Homo sapiens: one gene and its partners. The protein of the gene in region 2 purifies or fractionates together with the protein of the main gene of each other region. This does not show direct contact. Each region holds a gene or a part of one and is shown on either strand. Other genes may lie near its edges.

Evidence for each region.
Region 1: the proteins of IL22RA2 (region 2) and UPP1 purify together in Homo sapiens (co-immunoprecipitation; one large-scale study listed by IntAct). This does not show direct contact.
Region 3: the proteins of IL22RA2 (region 2) and THUMPD3 purify together in Homo sapiens (co-immunoprecipitation; one large-scale study listed by IntAct). This does not show direct contact.

Annotation. Positions count from the first base shown.
Region 1 is NC_000007.14:48,095,743-48,099,396, reverse strand, and holds part of UPP1 (uridine phosphorylase 1), read right to left. Parts: intron 1-3,654. UniProt on the Homo sapiens protein: Catalyzes the reversible phosphorylytic cleavage of uridine to uracil and ribose-1-phosphate which can then be utilized as carbon and energy sources or in the rescue of pyrimidine bases for nucleotide synthesis.
Region 2 is NC_000006.12:137,153,142-137,156,795, forward strand, and holds part of IL22RA2 (interleukin-22 receptor subunit alpha-2 isoform 1 precursor), read right to left. Parts: coding exon 3,618-3,654; intron 1,979-3,617; coding exon 1,800-1,978; intron 1-1,799. UniProt on the Homo sapiens protein: Isoform 2 is a receptor for IL22. Binds to IL22, prevents interaction with the functional IL-22R complex and blocks the activity of IL22 (in vitro). May play an important role as an IL22 antagonist in the regulation of inflammatory responses.
Region 3 is NC_000003.12:9,383,509-9,387,162, reverse strand, and holds the end of THUMPD3 (tRNA (guanine(6)-N(2))-methyltransferase THUMP3), read right to left. Parts: intron 2,952-3,654; coding exon 2,828-2,951; intron 2,640-2,827; coding exon 2,475-2,639; coding exon of another isoform or gene 2,431-2,474; 3' UTR 372-2,430; downstream 1-371. UniProt on the Homo sapiens protein: Catalytic subunit of the THUMPD3-TRM112 methyltransferase complex, that specifically mediates the S-adenosyl-L-methionine-dependent N(2)-methylation of guanosine nucleotide at position 6 (m2G6) in tRNAs.

The DNA of each region.
Region 1 (3,654 bases), on a different chromosome or scaffold from region 2:
GGAAATGTTTGATCTACCCATACAAGGAGTAGGGAGTATAGCCAGTTGCTCCTCTAATCAAGTTCATTCGATGTATAAACTTGAATTTATTTTAAAACTACTATGTTTACCATAGGAAATATGAACAGAAATAGAAGGAAAAACAACCTCTAATCCTACCTCCCAGAGATAACCTTTCCAATCTGCATACCTTCAATTTGTTTTTGTTTTTGTTACACTAGCTACCACTTCTCCAGCACGATATCCAATAGGAGTGACAAGATAAGACATCTGTTTATCTGCTAGAAAATGTGCTCGTGGCACATGCTGGTCTAGAGCAAGCATCAGCAAACTTTTCTTCATAAAAGGCCAGATAATAAATACATGTGGTTTTGCAGGCTGCATGATTTCTGCTACTTCTCAAGTCCACCGTAGACATGTGAAAGCAACTACAGATAGCACACAAATGAGTGAGTGTGTCTGTGTTCCAATAAAACCTTCCTTACAAAACAAATGCCCCAGGTCTAGATGAGTCCCTCAAGCCTGTCGAAGTCCCTTAGAGCCAGCCTCAAACGTAGCTCCTTCAACAATGTATGCCTTCTGAGTCCTAGAGATGGGTGGGCTCCCTTACAGGAAACAGAGGCAGACATGGGATGCTGATGTCAGAGCAATTGGGGACTTCTTTTTCTTCCTTCTGAGTCTGACTTTCTGCCCTGAACCCCGTGGTCATGTCTCCTCCTCATTCTAACTCATGAGAAAAGAAAAAGACACAAGAGAGGCAAGGTCTCAGCTGCCACGGATTTGGAAATAACTGTTAAATAAGGGATGCACCCCCCTCACAGACATTGTCCATTCTCTCCCCACACGATGCTTGTTACACCTTATCTATATTTTAACACTGGTATACATAATTAATGTAATAACTTTACCTCCAGAACAAAAATTTCTGGAGGCCATGACCACGTCTTATATATCTCTGAATCCCACGTAACACACCACAGACAAGAAAAACAAGGTTGAGATGGTCCCATCCTATTTTATCTATCATTTTATCAAATCCCTATTTCTATCTGGCACTCATCAACAGCAGACACCCAGGCTCCAAACACACAGATGGCCTATACCTGACTGCTTCCTCCTTTCATGACTGTCAAATGTTCCTTCCCATCAATTCCCCTAGAGTGGGGCCCAGGTGAGCTCACACCTGAACATTTCAGAAAGGCTGATATAGAAAACATAAGTACAAAGGGTTATACACAGAGACAGGGAGATCTTTGTATAAGGGGACAGGGGGCTAGGTGACTGTCTCCTGTATGGGCAGGCAGGGACTCTGCTGACTGCACTAGTGAATCTGCTGAAAACCCTGCTCAGGAAGGCACAGCAGCCTGCCTGAAGCACAGAGCCACACCCGCCTGCCCCTAAGCCCACCTCTTCCTGACAAGCTATTGGGGGGATCTCCAGAATCAGGGTTCATTCTACTCTGGGATGTGGGGCAAGGCCATTTTTCAAGCGACCAAATCCAGAATCACGTGTGGTAAGGACCATCCTTGAACTTTTCTCAGAAAACCTTTTTGATCTCTAGGCCAATCTGAAATTCTGACGATCTGCACACCCCACAGTATTTTAGGATCCTTTAGTGACAACTATTTTTCATGTAAGTAACATTTCCATTCTCCTCCTTCAGGATGTTAGAAATACACAGAGTACAACATAGAAGGGCTAAGAGTCATGCTTCAAAATAACAAAACAGGATGTGATTAAGACAACTTTGTCACATATTTCAAAATAAAATACTTGTCTTTTCTCCTTGATTCTGAGAAATGAAGAAGAAGGAAGTAGGGTGTAACCGTGAAGACAGGCAATTATTTTAAAACATGAAAATTTGGCCGGGTACAGTGGCTCACTCCTGTAATCCCAGTACTTTAGGAGGCCAACGCAGGTGGATCACTTGAGCCCAGGAATTCGAGACTAGCCAGGGCAACATGGTGAAACCCTGACTCTACAGAAAATGTAAAAATTAGCCAGGCATGGTGGCATGCACCTATAGTCCCACCTCCCTGGGAGGCTGATGTGGGAGGATCACCTGAGCCCAGGAGGTTGAGGCTGCAGTGAGCCCTGATCACACCACTGCACTCCAGCCTAGGTAACAGAGTAAGACTGTCTAAAAATAAAAAATAAAGTAAAATTTAAAAAGTAAATTTAACATGTACCATAATGAACCAGTAGATGCCCCAATTTATTTTTTGAAGGATTTTAAAATAACAAGTCAGAGACATACTACCTGGAAAAAAATATTTCTCTAGTCTACACATAATTTCAAGTGACTTTATTCTGCTTTATTCTACCACTTTATTCATCTAGCAAATATTCATTGAGCATCTACCATGTAAAAGAAATATATGAAATGAAATGAAAACTGTCTGGGCGCGGTGGCTCATGCCTGTAATCCCAGCAATTTGGGAGGCTGAGGCGGGCAGATCACTTGAGCCCAGGAGTTTGAGATCAGCTTGGACAACACAGTGAAACCCTGTCTCTGTGAAAAATACAAAAATTAGCTGGGTGTGGTGGTGCATGCCTGTAGTCCCAGCTACTCAGGAGGCTGAAGTGAGAGGATCACTTGAGCCCAGGAGGCAGAGGTTGCAGTGAGCTGAGATCACACCTCGGCACTCCAGCCTAGGTAAAAGGGCGAAACCCTGTCTCAATAAAAGACAAAAAGGAAAAAAAAGAAAGCAATGAAAACTGGCTTCTGATTCCAGGAGTTTATCAGCAGGGAAGAGAAAGCAGTATCAACCTTTATATAAACTTGCCCAAATAGCTTAGGACCAGCACATGTGGAGACAAGAAGAAAATGAGATGGGTGAGACACAGGGGCCTGAGGTACTGGGGAAGGGGAAGTGGGAGGGCTCCAGAAAATGCTGGCTGCATCTCGCAACAGCCAAGCATCCTGTGCTGGGTGTACTGAACATAAAGATGAGTAAGATCCAGTTCCACTCATGGAAGGCTTTCGACTTGGGGTAGAAATGAAGTTATTAATAGCTAGCACATATCAATTCATTTAATACTCTCAGTATAAACTAAGTACCATCAGTAACCCCATTCAAAGTCCAAGGTCACATCCTTCCTAAGAGGCTGTACTCCTGAGCTCTACACCTGACTGCCTTTCAGCAAGTGGAACATGATTAGCAGATAGCTGAGGATAAAACAAGGGAGGGTAAAATAATTACTGAAGAGAGGGAAGGGGAGGAAACCCTCACTGAGTTGCTTGGCACTTGGTGTGCCGGCCCTGTTTTCTCCAGCCTTCATTTCTACCACTCCCCTCCACCCCCACCAGCCTCCTACTAGGCCTCAACCTCAAGCCATGGCAGGAGGAGGAAGGAGGGGAGCTCCAGAAACTGGGGACAAGGCATTTTTGGCTGTCAATGACTGAAAATACCAGGAATACTATTAGTTCAATTAAAAAATAATCACTGAGGCAGGCCACAGTGGCTCACGCCCGTAATCCCAGCACTTTGGGAGACTGAGGCGGGTGGATCACTTGAGGTCAGGAGTTTGAGACCAGCCTGGCCAACATGGTGAAACCCCATCTCTACTAAAAATACAAAATTAGCCAAGTGTGCTGGCTTGCACCTGTAATCCCAGCTACCTGGGAGGCCGAGGCACCAGAATTGCTTGAAA
Region 2 (3,654 bases):
ACACCCATAGATGTAGTCAATGCCTTGTTCATGAGCATAGTACTCCACAATACATTGCTTATGACAAAGAACTTAAGTTAATGTGAAAGGAGTGAAGCAAGGTCTCAAGACCCATAGGACAAATATATATCATATATTTGTCGCTCAGAAATCCATGACTTTATAGGAAGGTGAAATGGATAATTGAAAACTCAGTTTGAGAGACGTCTTGTGAATTGGCATATGAATTGGTAAATGCTCCAATTGGTAAATGCTTCACTAAGCCTAGGGCCAATATATGGTGCTATTTCTTCCACAGACAGAATTCACTGGTCTAGGATACAAGAAGTAGAAGTGGGAGGGGCAACTCTGACTGTTACCCATAGTGAACAACTTATGACATGTTTTTGTTTCCCATATGCTTGGCCTTGAATTCTTCTGGTTTATAACAAAAATGGTTTCCAAAAATTGGAAGTCGAGGCTCTCTCCTGACCATTTGGAGCGCCTCATGCCATTTAACTAACAAAAAGAAAATGAGGTTCTTATATTGTCTAGGGTGATTCATTCTGATTTTCAAGGCATAATATAGTTATAAATACAATGGGGTCAGGTGGAAGAATTCTTGGTATCCTCTGGTGTGCCTCTTAGAGCTTCTCTATTCAGTGATAAAAATTAATGTAAGGTTAGGTCAAGCGGAGACAGGAAACACCAAAAGGACTCAAACTCCTCGTGGATAAAGAGCTGAAGTGCTGGCTGGAAAGAAAGTGAATGTTGAGTTTATAATGAAGGAAGAAGTCATAAATATTAACTACAGCTTCATGACTAGTTGACTTGTTGCAATTATGAGGACTGTGGTAAATATCTTTTTTTTTTCTTGTTCTATTTATGCACATCTTTATATCTATACATTAAACCCCTTCTCTCTCTCTCTCTACTATTTTATCCAATGTCTGTTGGTAATGGTTAATTTTAACACCTATGTCTTAGATTATATTATTCTATGGTTGTGACTAAACTAAAAAAGGAATAAATATCCTTCAGGATGGATACTGAGAAAGCACTTTTGGTCTGCCTTTTTGGGGAGGTGACTAAAAGTCTTAATTTCCTCAACAGAAAATTCCTGTAATCAGTATTTTCATGAACTTAACCCTCGTGTTTGGGGAAGGACTAGGCACTATGACAAATTCTGCTGTCTAAAAATACTTTTTTAGGGGCTGGGCATGGTGGCTCACACCCATAATCCCAGCACTTTGGGAGGCCAAAGGGGGCAGATCACCTGAGGTCAGGAGTTTGAAACCAGCCTGGCCAATATGATGAAACCCCGTCTCTACTAAAAATACAAAAATTAGCCAAGGGTGGTGGCACACACTTGTAATCCTAGCTACTCGGGAGGCAGAGGCCGGAGAATCGCTTGAACCCGGGATGCAGAGGTTGCAGTGAGCCAAGATCGTGCCACTGCACTCCAGCCTGGGTGACAAAGCGAGACCCTGTCACACACAAACACACACACACACACACACACACAAGGTGACAAATTGATGGAGTGGAGGCTCTGCAGTCAGATATAGCAAATTTGAACCCTGACTTGGATAATACAGATTGCGAGATTGGAGCAATGACTAAAGCCTCTACATCTTGATGTTCTGGACTAGAAAATTAGGATAATAAAAGCTATCTCCTAGAGTTGTTCTGACAATTAGACCAAAAGAGATAATGATGTAGAGACCTCAGCAAAGCACAAGGCCTAGTCACTAGCCGTGCTCCGGGAGGGCTGTCCAAAAGCAGGAAGAACAAGGGCAAAGAAACTCCATGGAACTCACTTTCCCACCAGGGAGTGAACCGCGGCGTCATGCTCCATTCTGAGTAGCTCCCAGCCGAGGCCGCCCTCACCCTCCCGTAATAAGGTTCCTGTATGTCTGAGGTTTCACTGGTAAGGTCACAAGAGAGTTCTTGAGTACCCCAACAGTCTTCTTTATTTTTCCATTGTCTCTGTCCATATCTGTAGCAGGGAAAAGGCAAAGATCTGAGTTTCTTTTCTCCACTCAAGGAGTCTTCAGTATTTTCAGACTAATAATTTTTTATACCTGATTCTAGTAGCAATACCACCATGATAGCTTATGGCTCCTCTTCAGAATCTTTAAAAAAATTCCTTCTTATTAACTGTTTCAGTCCATTTTCTGTTGCTATAACTGAATACCCGAGACTGGGTAATTTATAAAGAAAAGGAATTTATTTCTTACAGTTTTGGAGGCTAGGAAGTCTAATGTCTAAGAGCCATAAGAGCCACATCTGGTGAGGGCCTTCTTGCTGGTGGGGACTCTCTGCAGAGACTTAAGGTGACAGAGGACTTCACAGGGATTCAAGAGAGATGGCATATACATATATATACATATATATATAAAATATAAAATATATATAAAACAGACCAACTTTTTTGATAACTAGCCCACTTCCTCAATAACACATTAATTCGTTAATCCATCAATGGATGAATCCATTCATGGGGGCAGAATCCTCATGACCCAATCATCTCCCCAAAGTCCCACCTCTCAACATTGCTGCACTGGGGATCAGGTTTCCAACACATGAACTTTTGGGGGACACATAGAAACCACAGCATTACCTAAAGTGCTGTCTTGCTGGAAGATAAACATCCCTGACGCTTTCTGTATCACTAACATAAGGGTTTTAACCTTTTTTTTAATACTTGGCAAAATGTTCTTTCTGGTGTGTGGACTGACTTCCATTTTTGAATACTCACTCTCCACATCCTTAATGCTCTGTGGTTTTGGCTGTTTGTGGTTTTTCTCCACTTCTCATCAGCTTGCTGTTGAGTAATGTGGCTGCTTCTGAGAAGTTGCTACCACTTTTCATCTCAGGTGTTGCCTACCCAACATACATGATTAATCTCTTTATTGAAAATTGACGGGAACTTTTATTGAGGACTATATATGGAGCCCTGTAATTAGGGGTTGGGAGAGGGGGAGGGAATCCCATGAAAAAAGGTAGTGAGGCAAGAGGCAGAGTGGTTGACTCAGCCTGAGGCCACAGGATGGTGTAATAGTCAAAGGGAAGATTCACGCTTTGTTTCCTTACCTGCCATAAATCAGACCAATGTAACAAAGTGATGGTGGGGAAAAGAGAAGGAATTGGAGTCTGGGGAGAAAGGTTTCCCAAAATATTTATTGAAAGACTTGAAATCTAGCTTTCTAGACACATAATAAGGAAGATAGACGGTATCTATACTCGGTAATCTACATGGTGACAGCAGTTTCATTCCATCACAATTAAAGCAGAACCACAACATATATTGAGTATAATTTGATGTTTTAAAATTATTATTTATTTATAATAAGTCTTGAACTTAGCTGTAATGACAGACTTCTCTTTTAAAATAATATCTCATTGTTTATCCTATTCTAAACGCAAGGGATATAACAGTATTATAGCCCATGAACTGGATACACCAAAGTGAAAGTTTTCAAAATTATAAATTTGTCTTGTGCTGTTGAAAATCCCTTAGAGACAGGAATGGATTCAGGTATTCTGGGGTCTGAAATTTATACAATCTTGGTCCATTTAATGTTTCTATAACAGAACACCTGAGGCTAGGTAATTGATAAGGAAAAGAGGTGTACTTAGCCAATGTTCTGCAGCCTGGGAAGTTACAAGAAA
Region 3 (3,654 bases), on a different chromosome or scaffold from region 2:
ATGCCTATGTTGTTAATGAGTATGAAGCACTTACAGGCTTTTATGTACTTGAGGTTCCAAAGACATTTCCAAATTTTCCCATTTTCAGTCTTCAACTTAACATTTTGGTCCTTGCAGTGGAGACCTGAGTCCTATCTGACATTGGGACTACAGTTAGGGCAGAATTTCCTAAACTGCCATTTTTTAAAGAAATAAGGGTAACCAAATGTTCCCCTTAAAAGCACTCTGGTACCCTCTAGTATTGGGAGATAACTATCTTCCCCTAATTAGATTTGTAAAATCTTTCTCAATATTTATTTACATTTTTTTCCCCTCAAATATATTGACTTTTTCATTCCCAGTAACAATATGTCTGGTCTGTAACTAAGTCATTCCATGTTCAGATTACAGATTTATTTCCCCATCTTTTCACATTCTTTTAGTCCAGGAGACCCACTTTGAAGGTTAAAACCAAGGTCACACAATGAATAGGTGGCAGTGTCACATATAACTCAGCTCCAGGCCTTATGAATCCTGCTTATAGCCCACTGCCTATTCTAGTCACCAGATTGAAAAACACCATACTAGGGAAGAAGACGGCAAACTATTGCCCACTACATATTTGTATCAGTCTTGTCAAATTTTTATTGTAGTATGTAATAGAATTAAAGCTATGATGAATCAAGTAAAAAATGATTTCCTTAAAAACTAAGCTAATAGGCGAAAATACTCGCTTGTTCAACAAATACCCAGTCTGGCAGATACAATACCCTGCCCTTAGTGGGGGGTGGAGTGGGGGGTGGGGGGGTGGGGAAAGACATCGTGGTGAAAACAGACATGGTCCTTGAACTTCCTGGTTCTGTGGGTTGCTTAATTTGAGGTTTAAATGGTTTCTCCCATCAGGTGAAAAGTTTTGTGTTCGGCCCATAAACAAAGCAGCTGTGAATTCTGATAGTGGTAAAAAGGCCAGTCTAGGATATAAAACCTTCATAAACATCTTATTTCCCATTCATTATGAAGTGTGGGGTAGGAGATCAGAGAAACCAGATGAGGATTGCTGGCTGTGCTGCTAATGTGAACTCTTCTTTCAAAAGTATTGTGTCCTTTTATTCTCAATGGAGACATCAGAAAGTATTAAGAGGAGTACTATTATAATACTAATAGGATACTGAAAATCTATACTGATTGCAGCCAGAGGCTCCAAAATAAACAATACTATGATGAGTTCCACAAAAAAACCTCAACTACTCTTTGTTCCAGGGAAGCACCATTTTCCACAAAACTCTCAAGAAGGACTTGTTGCAACTGGAAAAGCAATTAAATGTGAATCGTGATCCAGGAGAAAGTAACAACTCACATAACTCCCAAATTAAAAGTTTTCCAAAGATATATCATTTTTTTTCTCTTGGCCTTTTAAGAAACTAGCCAACAAATACTCTTGACAGGTTTGTGTTTGGTTTTGAAAACACACACCTTAGTGTACTGAAAGAAAAACAATTTCTTTTAATTTGGTTTGTTGGTCCCACACCCCATCTATCAATGTATGTGCTATTTACAAATAAGTTCTATACAGTATTTTTGCAGTACCTTTGATAATTCCTAGACCTCTATTTTCATTCTGTGTATTAATGTGAATAACAGATGGATATTTTAATATTTAAGGCAGATGGTAAACTTTCCTATAGGTCTTGTGAGACTTCGTCTTATAGGCTGAACACCATTCACAAAATGTAATAATGCTTCATTCCTTCAGGTTGAGGTAAAGAACTTGAGCAACTGGATTAGCAAAGCTGCAAAGAATGAAATGTGGCCTAAGATGTAATTATGTTCTCTGCCCTTCCTTTGGGCCAGGGTAGTTTTGCACTTGACACAATGGAAAATAGGCCATAAAGCCTGAAAATAAAATGTTCTAAACCCCAATCTCACAGCACTTTAGTAGGCTTTTCACTAGGCATCTTTAAAGTATTTTCAACAAAATACTAATTAAGCTACCACTTCAAAAGAGCTTCAAGGAAAAGCTCTGCTTTCTTATAAAATCTTTTTGAGACAGAGTTTCGCTCTTGTCGCACAGGCTGGAGTGCAATGGCGTGATCTCGACTCACCGCAACCTCCGCCTGCTGGGTTCAAGTGATTCTCTAGCCTCAGCCTCCTGAGTAGTTGGGATTACAGGCGCCCGCCACCACACCTGGCTAATTTTTGTATTTCTAGTAGAGACAGGGTTTCACCATGTTGGCCAGGCTGGTCTCCGGACCTCAGGTGATCTGCACACTTCGGCTTCCTAAACTGCTGGAATTACAGTCGTGAGCCACTGTGCCTGGTCTCATAAAACTTTTAAATTCCATCACATTACATTCACACCTTTTGCTAACCAGGATGAAGAGCCTTAAACAGGTTTAAAGAGTGCAGACTGCAGTTTTGTTAATACTTTTTTCCTCTCCAAGTTCTTTTATGCTAACATTTCCAGTGGTGGGAAGTACAAGTACTATTAGTCATCTTCATTCTTTGCATTGCCAAAGAGTTCCTCTTTCTCCGTCTTGTTCTGAAGGATGAACAAAAGCTTGAGGTGTACGTATCAGAACGTAAACTGCAGCACGAAGACCACCAACGTTCACCCAGACTGTATCCACCTTTCGCCATACGTGTCGCATTCCAGATAACGCCTGTGTACACACAAAAAAAATAACAATTAGGTTGACAATCTACTTTTACATCAACTAGGATTCTTAACTGCCAAGATAGGAAACCTCAGGGGAAGAGAAAACAAATCTTATCCAAACAAACATCCCCAAATCTCAAAAAGATCCCAAAGTTGCCACAGGCTGCGATTTTGAGCTAATGTGTATAGCACCTTGGTAAAGCATTTTGTGTCTTGAGTAAGTAGTACAGCTCGGCCTGTGGTAGGTGTGCAGACACGGCTCATCTCCCGTAGGCAAGCTGGATAAAGGTTCCAGTTTCTCTTCTTGGATCCCATCCTATAATAGAAGGTCTCATGAGTCAAACACTTGCAAAAGATACAAAATAGAAGGACTATATGAAACAAAAACAGTTTCATGCATCCTGAGGCATGAAAAATAGCTGTAGTTTTAGAAACCAGACCTTTGCCATTACATGTCTATGAAATAAGTTGAGTTAGTAAACTGCTTAGAATTCTGAATCAAAAAAATTTTTTTTAGACAACTGTGTTAGTTATATGACTTGTCCTCTTAGTATAATAAGCAGTCAAACTGTATAAACCAAACAAGTGATTAGAAATCATTTAGGCCAGGTGTTTTGGTGGCTCATGCCTGTAATCCCAGCAGTTTGGGAGGCTGAGGCGGGCAGATCACCTGAAGTCAGGAGTTTGAGACCAGCCTGGCCAATATGGTGAAACCCTGTCTTTTAAAAATACAAAAATAAGCTGGGCATGATGGCATGTGCCTGAAATCCGAGCTACTCAGGAGGGTGAGGCAGGAGAATCGCTTGAACCCGGGAGGCAGAGGTTACAGTGAGCCGAGATCATACCACTGCACTCCAGCCTGGGCAACAGAGCAGGGCTCTGTCTCCAAAAAAAAAAAAAGAATCATTTATGCTGAGAAACAGAATGAGAACCAAGTCTTCTACCACCTTTTTGTGTAGGATATATAATTCAAGAATGGGCTAGAAAGTGAATTACAGGTAATTTAAAAATGAACCTCC